2 linked regions of the Homo sapiens genome follow. Each later gene encodes a partner of the first gene's protein in a complex. Each region holds a gene or a part of one and is shown in the gene's direction. Other genes may lie near its edges. The genes, in order: PLRG1 and SRRM2.

Region 1 (3,818 bases):
GAAATAAAAATGGTAGTATAATGATGGCAGAGATTCTTAGAGTGTGGAGAAGGTCACAGTAGAGATTAAAGGAAAAAATTGGAGAATATTCTTAACCTGTGAGGACACCATCTATCTTGTCTGTAATTCAGAAAGATGAAATTAAATACTGAAATCTTAATAAGTAAAGAGAATTCAAGATTCCACAGGAAACCATTTGCTTGGAAGAAATACCAGAGTGGATTGTCACTTGATAGGAGGGCTTCTTTGTATACCATTGCTATATAGCAAATGGTCAAGGACATGGTTTACAGAGATCAAAGCAAAAGTGATCAACTTCCCTTATTTCTGAGGCTTGACTTTAGTTGAGAAAATTTGATAGATCCAGTTGAAAACTTAATATTACTTGATACATTTAAAGAGATGATAACTTTTGTATAAGGTAAATTCACTACTGTTGATTTTTTTTGTGTTTTTTTAGGACAAGAAGTTGAATACTTTGTGGCAGGTACACATCCATACCCACCAGGACCTGGTTAGTGAGCTGTTATATATTGAAAATGTCTTAAAAATGTCACATATATTTTCACTAACGAGCCAATAATGAGATTCTTGTTGCCTATAAAATGCAAGATAAGCTCAGTAGCCAAGCATCCATGCATAGCTTTGTAGGTAATAATGAATACTCATATGCCTTCATTCAGCAAACATTCTTAAGTACGTATAATTTTTCAGGCAATGTGCTAGGAATTCAAAGACAGTAAAACTGTTGCAGGCCTAGTTATTTATTATCTGGTGGTTTAGGCAGACATGTAAATATCACTAAGCTTGTAAAAATGATGGAAATGTTAGAAGCAGTATCTGAGAAACATGTCCTCTGTCTGTATTAAGGCATTGGTCCACAGATGGAGTGGCCAGTGTAACAGGGTAGAGGACAAAAGGCTTAGTATGTAAAGAAAGTACAGGGAAATTGGGTGTTTCTAGTTTTAGTAAGTTACATCCACTCTTGGAAACATTCTGTTAGTATTTGAGGAACTGCTTAATACTGACTTGAAACTAATACCCAAATATAATGGAAATTAACTTTACTATTCTGGGCTGCTTTAATACCATGTGGGCTGTGATCAAATCAAATTTGAGTTACGTGTTATTAAGCAGTATTTATTGTAGAAATTAAAAACAAAGATGAGCAAAACTTAATCAAATTTGTATAATATCACTGCCTGGAGATAATAAACATTTGGTGTATGTTTTCCTTCATCATTTTATTTTAAGTGCATGTAAATGAATAATACACAGCTACTAAAAGAAGTTGATTTTTCATTTTAATAGGGGTTGCTTTGACAGCAGATACTAAGATCCAGAGAATGCCAAGTGAATCAGCTGCACAGTCCTTAGCGGTGGCATTACCTTTGCAGACCAAGTATGAAATATTATAATTACAAAGATCTTAAAAGCATATTTCACTGTTCACATTTTTTCTTTTTAAAATTTCTTTATAACTATTATATGACATTTTCCTTTATCAGGACTTTATAACAATTTAAAATAAAGGGTTAGTTTTGCAGAATACATGACTGGAGGCATTAATTACTTTGAAAATATTATTTCTTTTGCCCCAGGGCTGATGCAAATCGTACTGCCCCTAGTGGAAGTGAATACCGACATCCTGGGGCTTCTGACCGTCCACAGCCTACAGCGATGAATTCAGTAAGTTTTTCTGCATCAAATAGCAGGTTTCTAACTTTTGGAACATGTTGCCATATTTCCCTCTTCTTTGGAATTATTAAGATAAATAGCAGCCTGAGCTAGTCATTCATATTTCATAGCCCTAAAACTCAAGTTGGTAGTAAATTAACGTATTTTTTGGAATTTAATTCTGTTATTTGTCTACTTGTACATTGTGTGTAATATATATTTTGATAAAGATAATGTGATGTTGGTATTTATTGCCCACTATTAAAAATGCAAGGAGAGTTTTTCTGAAACTTGTGTTAGTATGTATTGAATATGAAAGTCTTTTTTTTTTTATTAAATTTTAAGTTGGTGTGTACAGTTATCTTGAGTGCTGTTAGTGTTGTACTATTCATGGGCTATACAACTAGTCTTATAAATGAGCATTTAGAAATAAGTTTATCTGTTTGTAAGTAAATGGCAACTGGTATTAGTATGGTAGAAATAGTTGTTGAATTTTCTATAGTTATTTTATTGATTTATCTGCAGCATAATAAAATATGCTGCCACTTGAAATAAGTGCTGGTTTTGCTTCTCAGCTCATTATGCAATTGATTTGACTTTATGAAGTGAATGAATGTGTAACTGCCACATCTCCTTTCCTCCTTTATTCCATTCAGAGCACGTCTTCTGTCCAGGCTCTCTACCCTCCTTATGAGGGTATAATTTAAGCTTCTTGAGGGCAGGAACTTTATGGGCTTATTTATGTTTTGGATGACTAGATGACTGCTAACAACAGATGGTATATCAGGCAGTATACCTGTTAAAATAGTATTTAAATATTGTATTAGAAGATAAATAGAAGGAACTGTCAGTCTTTGCTATATTAAACCAATAATGTTAAAATATGACAATGAAAGACAGTGGCACTAATACACTTAAAATGACTTTAATATTGGGAGCTTACATGGAGCATTTACTACTTATTAAATCTTTGTAGTAACCCTATGAAATAGGCACTATTCTTCCCATTTTACAGGTGAGCCACATAGAGGTTACATGATTGTTACCTAATGTCAAACAGCTAGTAATTGGCCAAGCTGGGTTTTGAACCCGTACACAGTGATGTGTGCTCTTAAGTCTAATGCTCTGCCTGTCTGTGATTTTATAATTGCTTTTTTAAGTTAACATACAGAAAATTGTATTTCTTCATTTATGGAAAAATTCTTTTGTAAGTTCCCTCTTTCCATTTCCATTTCTGAATTGATATCATGAAGCCTTAGGTATGATGTCTTTAATAATAATAATGTCTCTTCTATGTCTAGATTGTCATGGAGACTGGCAATACCAAGAACTCTGCACTGATGGCTAAAAAAGCCCCTACAATGCCAAAACCCCAGTGGCACCCACCGTGGAAACTCTACAGGGTGAGTGACTCTGCATTTATTTTATTATGTGAACCATGATTGCTTTGTAGTTGACAAGCACTGAAGAATAGAATAAGGAGGAAAAAGAGTGAATATGAAAAGCTGGTAGAGCGATCTGAGGTGGATTGAGAAGAGTCGTAGGGAGTATCTTAAAAGATCTCTTGGGAAGGTGACTTCCTTAAGCAAAAGTTATACTTTTATATAAAATAGTATGAAATGTCAAGATAAAGCTACTAAATATGGATGGCAGACTAAATAAATGTAGAAAAAGTGTTCAAAGTATTTAGTTTGAAGGTGAAGGGGAAAAACACCATATAAAGAAATTTATTTGGGCCTACCAGTTACTCTTTCAACTACAATAAATGAAAATGATTCAGAGTGTATCATCTAAAAGAAAATGGACATGCATGCTAACTTCAGCAGCACATACACTAAAATTGGAATGGTACGGAGAAGATGAGCATGGCCCTTCCACAAGGATAACACAGATTCGTGAAGTGTTCCATACTGTTTATTTTGCATTGCTTGCCTATACCAAAATATCTCATGTACTCCATAAATACATTTCTACTGTGTACCCACAAAAATTAAAAACAGAAAATTTTAAAAAAGAAAATGTACATAGTAGGAAATGTACAGCTACACATAATTTAATATGTATCTTAAAAATTTCATTTTTCAAATGATTGTACAGTAAGAGCCTTTTTGTTTGACATACAGCTCTAATGAATTGTAATA
Region 2 (3,818 bases), on another chromosome or scaffold:
AGGTATGGGAACGGTTGGAACAGAGGAGGCTGGTTTGATGTGTTTAAATAGAGCAGAGTTGAAAACAGGTAATATTTGACAGCTGGCAAGACAGGGAGGAACTGCAAATTGTTGTAAATCCTATTGAGAGGAAGGAAATTGAAGGAATAAAATATCAGGATAGTTGATAGGATCTTTAAATATTTGGAATCAAGGAAATGGCCCTTACCTGGGAGGTGAAGTATATGACGATTATCCAAGGTTCATGTGTGTTTCTGATGTGCATGCTGGCCTTTAGTTGGGGTGTGAGGCTGCACATTCTGAACCAACTAGTCTGCTGTTCAGATACCTAGGGGCTGTGTAGTTTATTTCATATTCGTATAGGGTGGTCTGAAATCCTTAGGTAAGTTTTTGGGAGAGTCTTTGGACATGGACTAGAGGCCGTTGGGTGCCACAGATCTGTGTCTGGTGTTTGTTGTGACCAGGAGGCTTTGGTTGGTTACCAGAGGTTAGGAATTAGAGTAGTTGGTAAACACACCACTTGTGCATTTTGGGGCCAAAGGAGAACAAAAAGGGACAGTGTGGAGAGATTTTAGAGGAACAAGATCCTTGTTTGCCTAGGGTGGAAAAAGAAGAAAATTTAGGTGTAGGGAGGGATTATTTAGAATTCTGTGCAAGGGCATTGAGAGAAAGGCTGTAAGAACTGGGCTGTGATTTGGTAGAAAGGAAATTTGGAAGGGCAAAGAAGTGGTTTTCTTGGGAGACCAGGAGGATGGTGGAGCATTATACAGCGAAGACTTAGTGTGAAGATCAATGTTGAATTAGGGATGAAGGAGAGCAGGGACTTGGGTGTGGGGCGGTAAGTGGTTAGTTTGGGGCCAGGGGCCTGACCCGTGTCTCCCCGCTCCCCCTCAGGAGCGGTGGTGCCCCCCCCGGGCACGGGGCCATGTACAACGGGATCGGGCTGCCGACGCCCCGGGGCAGCGGCACCAACGGCTACGTCCAGCGCAACCTGTCCCTGGTGCGGGGCCGCCGGGGTGAGCGGCCTGACTACAAGGGAGAGGAGGAACTGCGGCGCCTGGAGGCTGCCCTGGTGAAGCGGCCTAATCCTGACATCCTGGACCACGAGCGCAAGCGGCGCGTCGAGCTGCGATGCCTCGAGCTGGAGGAGATGATGGAAGAGCAGGGGTGAGGGAGAGCTGGGGGAGAGTCAAGCACTGAATGAGTGCAGAGCTGGGGGTGTTAGGTGGGATGTATAGGGAGCTTAGGGTGGTTGAAAGAGGCCTGGCAAAGAGTTGTGGTAGGGGAGGAGGCAGATGAGCTCTAGAGAAGTGAAAACAGTTAAGGGACAGTGCAGAGTGGGAAATGAGAAGGCTGTGTGTCTGGGGCATAGATGGGAGCCTGAGGTACTAAATGGAGGCACGTGGGAGAAGGGAGGGGCCATTGAGGAACAAAAATGTGTTTTAAGGAAGAGATGGGAAAGCAGAGACCAGGTAGAGGAGCTAGGTAAGCTGATAGGTGTTGTCATTGGTAGAAAAGAAGAAGATAAATGGATGTAAGGATTGAGGCCTTGGAAAGTAGCATAGGCAGGAAAAGAGGAATTAGAAGAATACGTGAAGAAGTGGGAATCATGGGCTGGGAAGGGAAATTTTGGAAAAGGAGCCCATTAAGGCAGAAAACTCTTTTAGAGCAGTGGTTTTAAACTTCAGCAATGGTGATCCTTTTATACAGTATCCCTTACTTTGGAATCCCAGGAAGTAAAAGGCACATTCTTGTTGAAGTTGGGGAGGAGCACTTGGAACCCTGCTTGCTTAACTTTTTTCTTTTGGTCCCTGAGGTGTAGCATATTTAAAATCCACTGTTCTAGAGGGAGTAGTAAGTAGAGGGAAGAAAGATGATGGGAAAAGATCAGACAGAAGGGACTTTTGGGTGAGCGAAAAGTTCTGTGTGCGCATGGAGAGGGAGGGGCCCCTTTTGGGAATGAGGGAAATGGAAACCTGGGACTGGGGAAAGTGTCCTGTCGAGCTTAACCCTGAAGGGATTTGTTCTTCAGGTACGAGGAACAGCAAATTCAGGAAAAAGTGGCGACCTTTCGACTCATGTTGCTGGAGAAGGATGTGAACCCTGGGGGCAAGGAGGAGACCCCAGGGCAGAGGCCAGCGTGAGTGTTGCGCTCTCCCTCGATGACTCTGGACTCTACTCTGGCTGCTGGCTGCTGCTGCTGTCCTTTTCCTTACGTGGGACTTCCTCCCTGCTTTCGTCTGCCTTTCCCATGCCTTATTTGGCTCCTGCTTATACTTGTGTTCTGAATATGGCTCTGTCCTTTATATTTCCTTCAGACTTTTGCCCTTCTTTTCTCTAGGGTCACGGAGACTCACCAGTTGGCAGAATTAAATGAGAAGAAGAATGAAAGACTCCGTGCTGCCTTTGGCATCAGTGATTCTTACGTAGATGGCAGCTCTTTTGATCCTCAGCGTCGTGCCCGAGAAGCTAAACAACCAGCTCCTGAGCCTCCCAAACCTTACAGGTATACAAGGCCAAGAAACCACTGTCAGCTTCTTTTCTTGATTGTAAGCTCCATGCTCTATTTTTGTCTTTTTGCGGGCTGGTTTCTTCCCAAACTCTTCAGATTTTGTTCTTCTGAAGTTGAGGTGTCCAAAAAAATGTGTCCAAGGGTTAGTCACAGTGGGTCACGCGCGTAATCCCAGCATTTTGGGAAGCTCAGGCAGGAGATCACTTGAGGCCAGGAGTTTGAGACCAGCCTGGGCGATGTAGTGAGACCCCATCTCTACAAAAAGAAAAAAAGCTGGTTGGTGGCACATGCCTGTAGTCCAGGCTGCTTGGAGAGGTGGAGGCAGGAGGGTCTTTTGAGCCCACAAGTTGGAGGTTACGGTGTGAGCTGTGTTGCTGCCACTGCACCCCACCTGAGGCAACAGAGCGAGACTCTTATTTTTTTATTTTTATTACTATTTTTTTAGACTCTGTCTTTTAAAGAAAAGAAAGGAATGTTTGTTCTACCACCCATCTCTGCTGCTTTTCATTTTTCCCTAGCCTTGTTCGGGAGTCTAGCAGTTCTCGCTCACCAACCCCAAAGCAGAAGAAGAAGAAAAAGAAGAAAGATAGAGGACGGTAAGTTAGTTGGAAAGTGACTCTGATAGCCAGAGGACCAATCCTGTGGTGTACCTTTCTCTCTGGAAGTGGACAGTTCTGGCTTCCACAAAGCAGGAGATAGTTGTCAGGGAGGAGGGAGTTACCATTGAGGCCTCAACTAGAAGAAATACCTGAGTTTCTCAGTGGGGAAGTGTTGAGTTTGCAGTTCTGCTAATTAAGATTGGCCAGCAGCATTTTGGATTCTGGAATTTTCTTTTTCATTTTGAGGTTTGTTGACTTAAGGAGTTACTTGTGCTTGTTGGAGAAAGAAGAAATAAGTCCTGGGCTTAGGTCTGGGGCATTAGTGCTATTAGGACATTCAAGTGTTTTAGAAACCTTTTTAGGAGAGAGATTGTAAGTGGGAGGGCCAGGAAAGAAGCCAAGCAGGATGAGCTTGCTTTTGAATCCATCTTTAGCAGGTCAGAGAGCAGCTCTCCTCGACGGGAGAGAAAGAAAAGCTCAAAGAAGAAGAAGCACAGGTATGAGGTGGGAATACTTGAATGACTGGAGAAGGTTTGCTGAATTCAGGCAGAGGTGTTTCTTATGTTTTTTCTTCTCTTTTTTCCAACAGGTCAGAATCTGAGTCCAAGAAACGTAAGCATAGGTAAGAGCTCTTTAACTCATAGGGGGCGCAGTGGCATGTGGAGTGGTGATTTTTTTTTCTTGGAGTGAAGCTCAATTCCTTGATC

Evidence for each region.
Region 2: PLRG1 (region 1) and SRRM2 share a complex: the UniProt entries of both Homo sapiens proteins name them as parts of the minor spliceosome.

What each region holds. Positions count from the first base shown.
Region 1 is NC_000004.12:154,543,707-154,547,524, reverse strand, and holds part of PLRG1 (pleiotropic regulator 1), read left to right. Parts: intron 1-460; coding exon 461-514; intron 515-1,311; coding exon 1,312-1,402; intron 1,403-1,601; coding exon 1,602-1,689; intron 1,690-2,978; coding exon 2,979-3,080; intron 3,081-3,818. UniProt on the Homo sapiens protein: Involved in pre-mRNA splicing as component of the spliceosome. Component of the PRP19-CDC5L complex that forms an integral part of the spliceosome and is required for activating pre-mRNA splicing.
Region 2 is NC_000016.10:2,755,440-2,759,257, forward strand, and holds part of SRRM2 (serine/arginine repetitive matrix protein 2), read left to right. Parts: intron 1-894; coding exon of another isoform or gene 895-925; coding exon 926-1,167; intron 1,168-2,032; coding exon 2,033-2,140; intron 2,141-2,341; coding exon 2,342-2,506; intron 2,507-3,030; coding exon 3,031-3,108; intron 3,109-3,545; coding exon 3,546-3,608; intron 3,609-3,700; coding exon 3,701-3,733; intron 3,734-3,818. UniProt on the Homo sapiens protein: Required for pre-mRNA splicing as component of the spliceosome. As a component of the minor spliceosome, involved in the splicing of U12-type introns in pre-mRNAs.